2 separate regions of the Homo sapiens genome follow, and region 2 is linked to region 1. Evidence: fine-mapped expression QTL. A gene starts in region 1. The other region holds a variant in brackets. All regions are shown on one strand. Distances are from middle to middle.

The links. PIP is the estimated chance that this variant, and not a neighbour inherited with it, causes the effect.
Region 2: its variant is fine-mapped to the expression of CNOT8 in fibroblasts (GTEx, PIP 0.94).

Annotation. Positions count from the first base shown.
Region 1 is chr5:154,856,593-154,860,987 of GRCh38, forward strand. CNOT8 (CCR4-NOT transcription complex subunit 8) reads left to right here and starts at 2,035. Exons shown (of 7, transcript NM_001301073.2): 1 at 2,035-2,176. RefSeq lists enhancers at 829-1,330, 1,331-1,834, 1,710-1,879, 1,835-2,337, 2,841-3,343 and silencers at 2,080-2,179, 2,240-2,299.
Region 2 is chr5:154,942,967-154,947,361 of GRCh38, forward strand. All of the region lies in intron 2 of MRPL22 (mitochondrial ribosomal protein L22), which reads left to right. Among named protein-coding and RNA genes, the nearest start is that of MRPL22, 4.1 kb to the left of the region's middle. The variant C/T (reference allele first, on the strand shown) is at 2,197.

The DNA.
Region 1 (4,395 bases):
CTGACTGGGGGATGGGGCACTTGCCTGCCTTCTTTATCAGTGTATCCCTCAACGGAATCACTGTTTATTTTTTTATTTTTTGAGAGGGAGTCTTGCTGTGTCGCCCAGGCTGGAGTGCAGTGGCACGATCTAGGCTCACTGTAACCTCCGCCTCCTGGATTCAAGCAATTCTCCCTGCCTCAGCCTCCGGAGTAGCTGGGATTACAGGTGCCCTCCACCACGCCCAGCTAATTTTTGTATTATTTAGTAGAGACAGGGTTTTGCCATGTTGGCCAGGCTGGTGTTGAACTCCTGACCTCAGGTGATCCGCCTGCCTTGGCCTCCCCAAGTGCTGGGATTACAGGCTCAGTGAGCCACCAATCCCGGCCCCAAATCGACTGTTTTAGGGAGAGCAAACTGAGACATGCCATTTATTGAACGCTCTTTTATATCTTCCTCGGTGCGGGGTGTTTTTCCAATTATTAACTATTTAATCTTCACAAGCTCACGACAGCCATTCGTAACCTAATTTTGCAGATAAGGAGCTAGACACTCATTTGGGGGGGAGAAGAGGAGGACTGGAGTTCAGAAAGTGCATTTGATGCTCTTATCCTGGAGGCTGGAGCTAGTTCACCTCCCTGGAGAACAGCTTTTGGGAATCCCGTTTGAAATTGCCGCTCAAGGCCAGCTCGGCATCCAGCCTAGGAATTGGAGGATTTTGGAGAATCCCCTTAGGGGGAAATGTTTAAAAGTGCAAAGTGAATAGTAGAAGCCCCTCTCCTCGTCACTAGGGGTACATTTGCCGTTTTCTTATCAACAGCCTCTCAAGTACAAGCATCTGGGACAAGAACTAGAACCGTGCTTGGGGCAGCCCCCACGTCCTCTCGGGAACAGGGGTGGAGCGCTGGCGGGAGTGGCTGAGGGCGGCCCGCCGCCGACACTGTGTGCAGGAAGCGGGCGCTTTGTCTGCTCTCCCACCGCGGAGAACACGAGGCGGAGGCGCGCCCCAGCTGGCCACACGCTGCCCAGGGCCGGCGTCGGTCAAGAGCCCTCTCTTCAAGCAGGATTAAGAGGGAACCAAGGGGCTGGCAGAGGGGCCTCAGAAGCTCCTGGGCGAGGCCTGAGCCCGTGGGTCTCGACACTAAAATCTGGCGAGCTCCCTGCGCGTCCGCAAAGATTTTGGAGCTCTGAAGAGCCCGGCGACGCCTGCGCTGGCCAGGCGCCGTGCCCACGGGAGGCGCCGTCCTCTTTGTAACTCGAGCAGACCCTGGCGGGCCAGTTGCTATGGCAATGTTCCTCGCTCTGCTCGGTGAGGCCGGGAGGTAGGCGGGCCTTGGCGGACGTCACCCACATTCGGCTTTGGGGAGCCGCCCCACCCCCAACTAATTGTTTGCCAGAAAGGAACCGTAGGATAGATGCTTTGTGAGACATCTACGGGGCCATGTTAGAACAGAAAGTCGCGACAGCCTCTTTCTCCGTCAGCCTCTTCACAAATCCCTTCGTGCCAACGATTTTAACGGTCCTTCAAAGCCAGGAGGAGGGGGCGTGGTAATTCGAGGGGTTTGTTCGAAGGGCCACGCCCTTTCCTCGGCCTTTGGATTTTTCCAGGCCGCGCCCACGGCGGGGGGGTGGGGGGGGGCGCTAGTTCTAGACCACGCCCCTTCCTTGTTCGCTCGGAAAGAGGACCAAAATGGAGGAGTAAGAATCATGATTAAATTGAGCGAGCGCAACTAATCACGCGAAGAGGGCCGCAGGCGGGCCGTCTTCCGCAAGCGTGCTTCCAGGCCTCCACTCCCCACCTATTCGGCGGCACCCTGTTACTTCTGCTCCTGCGCGCTGCTTCCCGCGACCTCACAGGCAGAGCGAACACGCACGGAGTCGCAGGGGCGCGCAAAGGGGGAGGAGCGGGCGTGACCAGGCGCGCGCGCGCGTCTGGAGTGACTCTAGAGAGCAGGCGAGTCGGGCGGATCGGGTGGGTAGAGTGGTGCCGTCCGGTTGTTTGGTGGGAGGCACGTAAGACCGCTCTGGGCACGGGGGCGCTCACCTCACTGGCTCGTTCGGTTCTAGGAGCAGATCCGGGGTAGAGGGAAAAGAGCTCCGGGCCAGGGGCTGCCGTCGCCGCCGTCGGGGAGTCAGCCCGCCAGCCCGCCAGCTCGTCAGCCCGCCAGCCAGCGCTTCGCGGGCCCTGTCGGTCCCGGTAAGCGGGCCTGCGCTTACCGGAAAGAGGAGCGTAAGATGAAAGAGTGTGAGAGACCATTGGGGGTCTGTAGGGGGAAGGGGAGTGGGGGCGTGTGTAAGGGGCAGGGTGTGTGAGGAGGAGAGGAACCCCAGCAAAGAGTAGTAATAATAATGGCCACCGTCACACGATAATATTCGAGTAATATGTGCGGGGACTTTACAAAGCATCTCATATGCTTCATTTTAACTTCTACTCCAATCCTCCGAGGTGCGTACTGTTATCAAACCCATTTTACAAGATAGGAAAACCGAGGCACGAAATAGATTAAGTGGCTTATGCAAGGACACACGACTACTACGTGGCCTGGCCTGGCTTCGAACTTAGTTATCTTAGTCCTAAGGCCCGTAATTTTAACTTTGCTTTACCAAACAAAAACAGAAGAAGAATGGCGTGTCAGAAGGAGGAGGACTGAGTGTGATTTGAAGTGGAAGGATGATGATAAACGAGAAGAGAATGATGATGGGAGACGGAGTAGTGGGGAGGAGGACCTGAATTTGGAATCTTGCGGGCCTCCCCCTTCTAAATCGCCGCCTCTTCCTTAGTTCTTGCGGCCCCATAACTTTTTCTTGGTGTTCTATGGCTTTATGAATGGAGGAGCCAACTCACAGACCTGGGCCATTCGGGTGGTTTTAAGAAGTTTGAACTGCGGTTCAATCCAGGGCAGTGCCTTGAGACACTGTTTGGAGGTAAGGGAGGGTCAGAGGATCCTCTTAAACGCTGCTGCTATTTATTTCTTCAAACGTGCCACTTCCTTTTCTATCATATCTATGCACGGCAAAGCCTTTGTTCAGTCCTCTAGAATAAGGAAGTGATGTTTATTGTTTCCTTGTACACTTGGGCTTAAACGAACAAAATCAGACTCAACGTTTCTTTTCCCGAGCAAGGCCTTGATTGCTTGCAGAGAAAACTTTCCTGTGGCTTTATCATTAGTTGCCCTTCAGAGCTTTCCTGTGTAAATAAGAAGCTATGTTTTGGAGAAGTTTACACCGTAGATGAACGGGAGCGATCTGAACATACTGCACTGCAGGTCAACACAGAGCAGGGACTTCAGTAATTCATAGGTGTGAGTGTGTTTGTGAAAACCTTTCCTTCTTGCACAGTTTTCTGTGTAGCTCATGTGGGAGTCAAGTTTTTAAGTCAGCCCGTGAGGCAAACATTGTATGTAATAAAAATTAACCCTTAAAAATTCCTAGGAAGGTGCAACGCTTGAGATTAGCATCCTGTTTCTGACTACATCCTGGACGGTTTTTCCTTCAGTTTTGAAACTTGTTACTGTTGCTTTGGTTGTAACCCAGATAAGTAATTAGATTACCTTTAGGGGCTGTGTTGTGCAAATAAGCATATTTGAAAGCCATAGAGTTGTGATGCGCTGTGAGATGCTTGCCCTGAGGAGGCTTAAAAGGAGGAAGACAAACCCCTATCTTAGGCTCATTTTGGAGCATGTGCTTACAAAGTGGAAAGTGGCAGGCAGAATTGCTGGTATGATGATGATGATGATGATGATTTTTTTGAGACGTGCTCTTGCTCAGTCGCTGAGGCTGGAATGCAGTGGCGTAATCACAGCTCACTGCTGCAGCCTTGACTTCCTGGGGCTCAAGTGATCCTCCCAGCTCAGTCTCCTGAGTAGCTGGGACTGCAGGCACACACTACCATGCCTGGCTAAGTTTTTGTACTTTTTGTAGAGACGGGGTCTCACTTTGTTGCCCAGGCTGGTCTCGAACTCCTGGCTCAAGTGATTCTGCAGTCTCAGCCTCTCAAAAGTGCTGGGATTACAGGTGTGAGCCACTGCCCTTATCCTGCTGGTATTTAAGTTGCTATTTTATTTTATTTTTTGGCCAGCATATGCAGTAATTTGACTTGCTAAATTAAATGTGCATAGTGCGATTCCTCTTTAATTTTTGAGTGGCACTACATTCAGGGGCTTGCAAGCTATTGTTTACTTCCCCACAGATCCTAGCTAACTTTGGAGCAAAAATGGCTTACATATTTTTGCCAACTGTCTGGCTTCGGCAGTCCCCATATATATGCCAGATATGTATAACAGTGGTTAGCTTTTTAAAAACCAATTCTCTTTTAAATGGAAGTTAAAGGCGTCTTTTGGTTGTGTGGGGTTTTTTGTTGTTGTTGCTTTTGCTTTTACGGAAACATCTCTCAAAAACTCAGGAGTGATACACCCA
Region 2 (4,395 bases), 86 kb after region 1:
ATCTCTAAGGCTATTTGCAATTCTGAAGTTATTACATAATTTTGTGAATCCTTATTTTGGATTTTCTAGTGGGGAAAATGACCATAAGAAAACTAAGTAGAAAGGTATAAATAATGTTCATGATAACCATGTAAAATTTTAGCATATAATCTGATTCAGTGATGAGAAACTTTTTTTTCCTTTTTTTTTTGGAGACACGGTCTCGCTCTGTGCCTAGGCTGAAGTGCAGTGCTGTGATCATAGCTCACTGCAGCCTCAAACTCCCGGGCTCCCACCTCAGCTTCCTAAGTAGCTAGAACTACAGGTGCATGCCATCACACCTGGCTAATTTTTAGGGTCTTGCTGTGTTGCTCAGGCTGGTCTCTAACTCCTGGGCTCAAGTGATCCTCCTGCCTTGGCCTGGAGGGATTACAGGCATGAGCCGCCAGGAAACTTAATTGCATATAGGCCCCAGACTAGAAATAAATAAACTAAGGGAAGTTGTCTATGTAAAATGAGAGTGGGAGGGCCTGTGGTGGTCAGTAGAGTGTATTCCTCATCTAAAAACATTGAATTAGGTTAAGAAAACTGCTGCTGACCAAATAAAACATTTCTGCAGGATATATATATATATACACACATATATGCACATATATACATATATACACATATATATACATATATACACATACATACATGTATATACACACACATATATATATAGATATTAAAATTTTTTTTTTTTTAAAGACAGCGTTTTGCTGTGTCACCCAGGCTGGAGTGCGGTATCATGATCATAGCTCACTGCAGCCTCGATTCAAGCCATCTTCCCAACTCAGCCTCCCAAGCAGCTGGGATCACAGGCGTGCACTACTACACCTGACTTTTTTTTGAGTTTTAGTAGAGACAAAGTCCTGTTATATTGCCCGGCTGGTCTGAAACTCCTGGGCTTAAGTAATCTCCCACCTCAGTCTCCCAAAGTGCTGGGATTACTCTGTAGGCTATATTTGTTAGCTGACTGACAGTTTTCAGTTTTTGAATTCCAAGTCTCCTATTTTACTGATGCATACATTTGAGAAGTTTTGTGACTTACTGAAGGTTACACAGTTAAATGTCAAAGTGAGGATCTAAACAAAATATTTTCTGGGACTACAGGTGCAGGCCGCCATACCTGGCTAAGTTTTGTATTTTTAGTAGAGATGGGGTTTCACCATGTTGGCCAAGCTGGTCTCAAACTCCTAGGCTCAAACGATCCGCCCGCTTTGGCCTCCCAAAGTGCTGGGATTACAGGCATGAGCCACCACGCCCAGCCAAAAAAATATTTTTTTTTAGGAGACAGAGTCTCACTATGTTGTACAGGCTGGTCTCGCACTCTTGGGCTCAAGTGATCTTCCCACCTCAGGCTCCCGAGTCTCTGGGATTACAGACGTGAGCCACCAAGCCTGTCTGTACCACCCTTTAGATGGGGGCATATCCTCTTAAGCTTTCCTCAGTTTCCAACCATGTGTAAAATTTTGGCATAGTTATTTACACTCAGTCCTCTTACCTTACCTGTCTCTGTATTCTTTCATTGATTCTACAAATATGTATTTAGTGCCTGCTCTGAGCTGGGAACTATTCTAGCACTGAGGATTTTGCAGGGAACAGGAACAGACAATAATCCCTTGCCATTGTGGGGTGTACAATATAGTAAGGGGGGCAAATAAGCAAAATAAGTAAAATATAGAGTATATTAGATAGTGACATCTGCTTATGAGAAAATAAAGCAGAGATTGAGAATAAGAAGTATGTGTGTTTGAGAGAGGAACTTGTAGTTTTAGATAGGGAAGGCCTCACTAAAAGATAATCTTTGAGTAAAGATTTGAAGGAAATGAGGAAGCATGCTGTGCTAACATCTGAACAAACAGCATTCTGTGCAGATAGAATAGTAAGTGCAACAGCTCCAAGGAACCATATCTGGTGTCAGGAACAATGACAAAAAGGAGAGGGATAGTGATAGGAGATGAGGTCAGAGAGGAAGGGGCAGTCATAAATCATATAGAGCCTTATTATTTTTTGTAAATACTTTGGCTTTTATTCTGAGCAAGATGGGAAACTGTTGTAAGGTTTTGAGCATGGAGTTATATGATCTGACTTATGTTTATGAGTGGTTCTTTCTGGCTGCTGTGTTGAGAATAGACTGGGGTGGGGATGGGGAGCAAGGATGGAAGCAGAGAC[C/T]GTTGGCTATTTCAGGTATGAGATCATGGTGGCTTGGATTAGGGTGGCCGTGAAGGTAAGTGAATGGTTGGATTCTGGCAGTATGTTAACCACACCTGACAGATCTTGTTGATGCATTGGATGGGAGGTGTGAGAAAGAAGGGTGACACCAAAGTTTATGACCTGAGCAACTGGAAGGGTAGAGTTAACCACTTACTGAGCTAGGAAGACTTCCAGAGGAGCAGGTTTGGGGAGAATATTAGTAGGTCACTTTTGGGTTTGTTAAATCTGAGCTGTTGTAAGCATCCAAGTAGAGATACGAGTAGGCAATTGGGTATATGAGTTTATAGAGTTCAGGGAACGGATGTACATTTGGGAGTCATCAATGCATGGATAATGTTTAAAGCTGCAAAGCTGGTTGACTTCACCAAGGGAGTGAGTGTAGATAGAAAGAGTCCGAGGATTGATTCCTGCCTAAGGCAGCCAATATTACAGACCAGGGAGGGAGACAAGGAAACAACAAAGGAGACTGTGGGGGAGTGGCCAGAGAGGGGAGAAGAAAACCCCAAGTGTCCTGGAACCCAATTAAAGAAAGTGTCTCAAGGAAGAGTGAGTGACCAGAGATACTTAGGTCACTCTCAGATGAGGACTGATAATTAGAATTAGAATTTGTCTGTATTTTCTGTTTTAAGGTTGCTTCATTTTGTTTTAATTGAGTGTTATTCCAGCAATTGGCCAGGAGAGGGCACATAGGAACTTTTGATTTGATATTCTGTGCTTCTAAATTAAGAACCCCATTTGGAATAATACTTTAATTTAATTTGATTATAGTAGTTTGGTCTTTGCTTGATAATTCAGTTCATGAATTATTTGAGTCCTGAAAGTATTATAAGAATTCAGAAAGCTTTGACATTATTAATTCATAGTATGTTTAATTTATGAAGCAACATATTTAATTCACCAAATATGTATTGAAGATTTGAAGAGCGCAAGGTACTGTGCTAGGCGGGTACAGCAGGTATGGGCCTGACTCAAGAAATCTTTCAGATTGGTTTGTAGCAAAGGGGTTCATGTTTCTGTCATGCTGTTGGTGATGAGATTAGAGATAGAATTAAGGTTAGGAGAGGCCTTATAGATGATGTAGTCTAATTCCTCTTTTCACAGACAAAGAAACCAAGGTCCAAAGAGGTGACAAACATAGTGTACCCTACTCGCTAATTACAACTACATAGAACCATAAACGTTTATGATTATAAACTTGAGAAAAAACTTTGAAATTGTGTATTTAAAGCTTACAGTTCACAGGACTTATTTGGGGGCTGGGGACAGGAGAGATTAACTGTTCAAAGGGCCTAACTTTGTTTTATTTTTTATGCCCTTAAAAAAAGAAACACGGGTGTGGTGGCTCACACCTGTAATCCTAGCACTTTGGGAGGCTGAGATGGGTGGATCACCTGAGGTCAGGAGTTCAAGACCAGCCTGGCCAACATGGTGAAACCCCGTCTCTACTAAAAATACAAAAATTAGCCAGGTGTGGGGTGCGGTGGTGCGTCCCTGTAATCCCAGCTACTTGGGAGGCTGAGGCAGGAGAATCGTTTGAATCCAGGAGGCGGAGGTTGCAGTGAGCTGAGATCGCACCATTGCATTCCAGCCTGGGTGACAAGAGTGAAACTCTGTCTCAAAATAAAATAAACAAAACAGAGGCAAGGCCTTGCTATGTTGCCCAGGCTGGTCTTGAACTCCTGGCCTCAAACAGTCCTCCTATCGTGGCCTCCCAAAGTGCTGGTATTGCAGGCGTGAGCCACCATACTTGGCCAAAGGGCCTAATTTAAAAATAACACTAGCCATCAGTGTTTATCATGGGCTAGACATTGTAGGATGCACTAAATTATTAATCCATCAACAGTATTAAGTAAGTATTATTTTCCTCATTCTACAAGTAATAATATCTAAAATTTATTGAGCCCTTTTAAGTGTCAGGTTAAGTATTTTACTTGCATTTGAGCTTCTTAAGAAGGCTATGAGGTAATTATTATTAGTCTATTTACTGATGGGAAAACTGAGACCCAGAAAATTATATGACTTCCCCAAGGCCATTCACCTAGTAAATTAGAGTTAGGATTTAGACCAAGGTCTGCTCGACTCTGTAGCCTCAGCTGTCACCACTCGGCTTATTTTAGCAAAATAGGCCTTCATACATCATGTATCCTAATTTTGTGC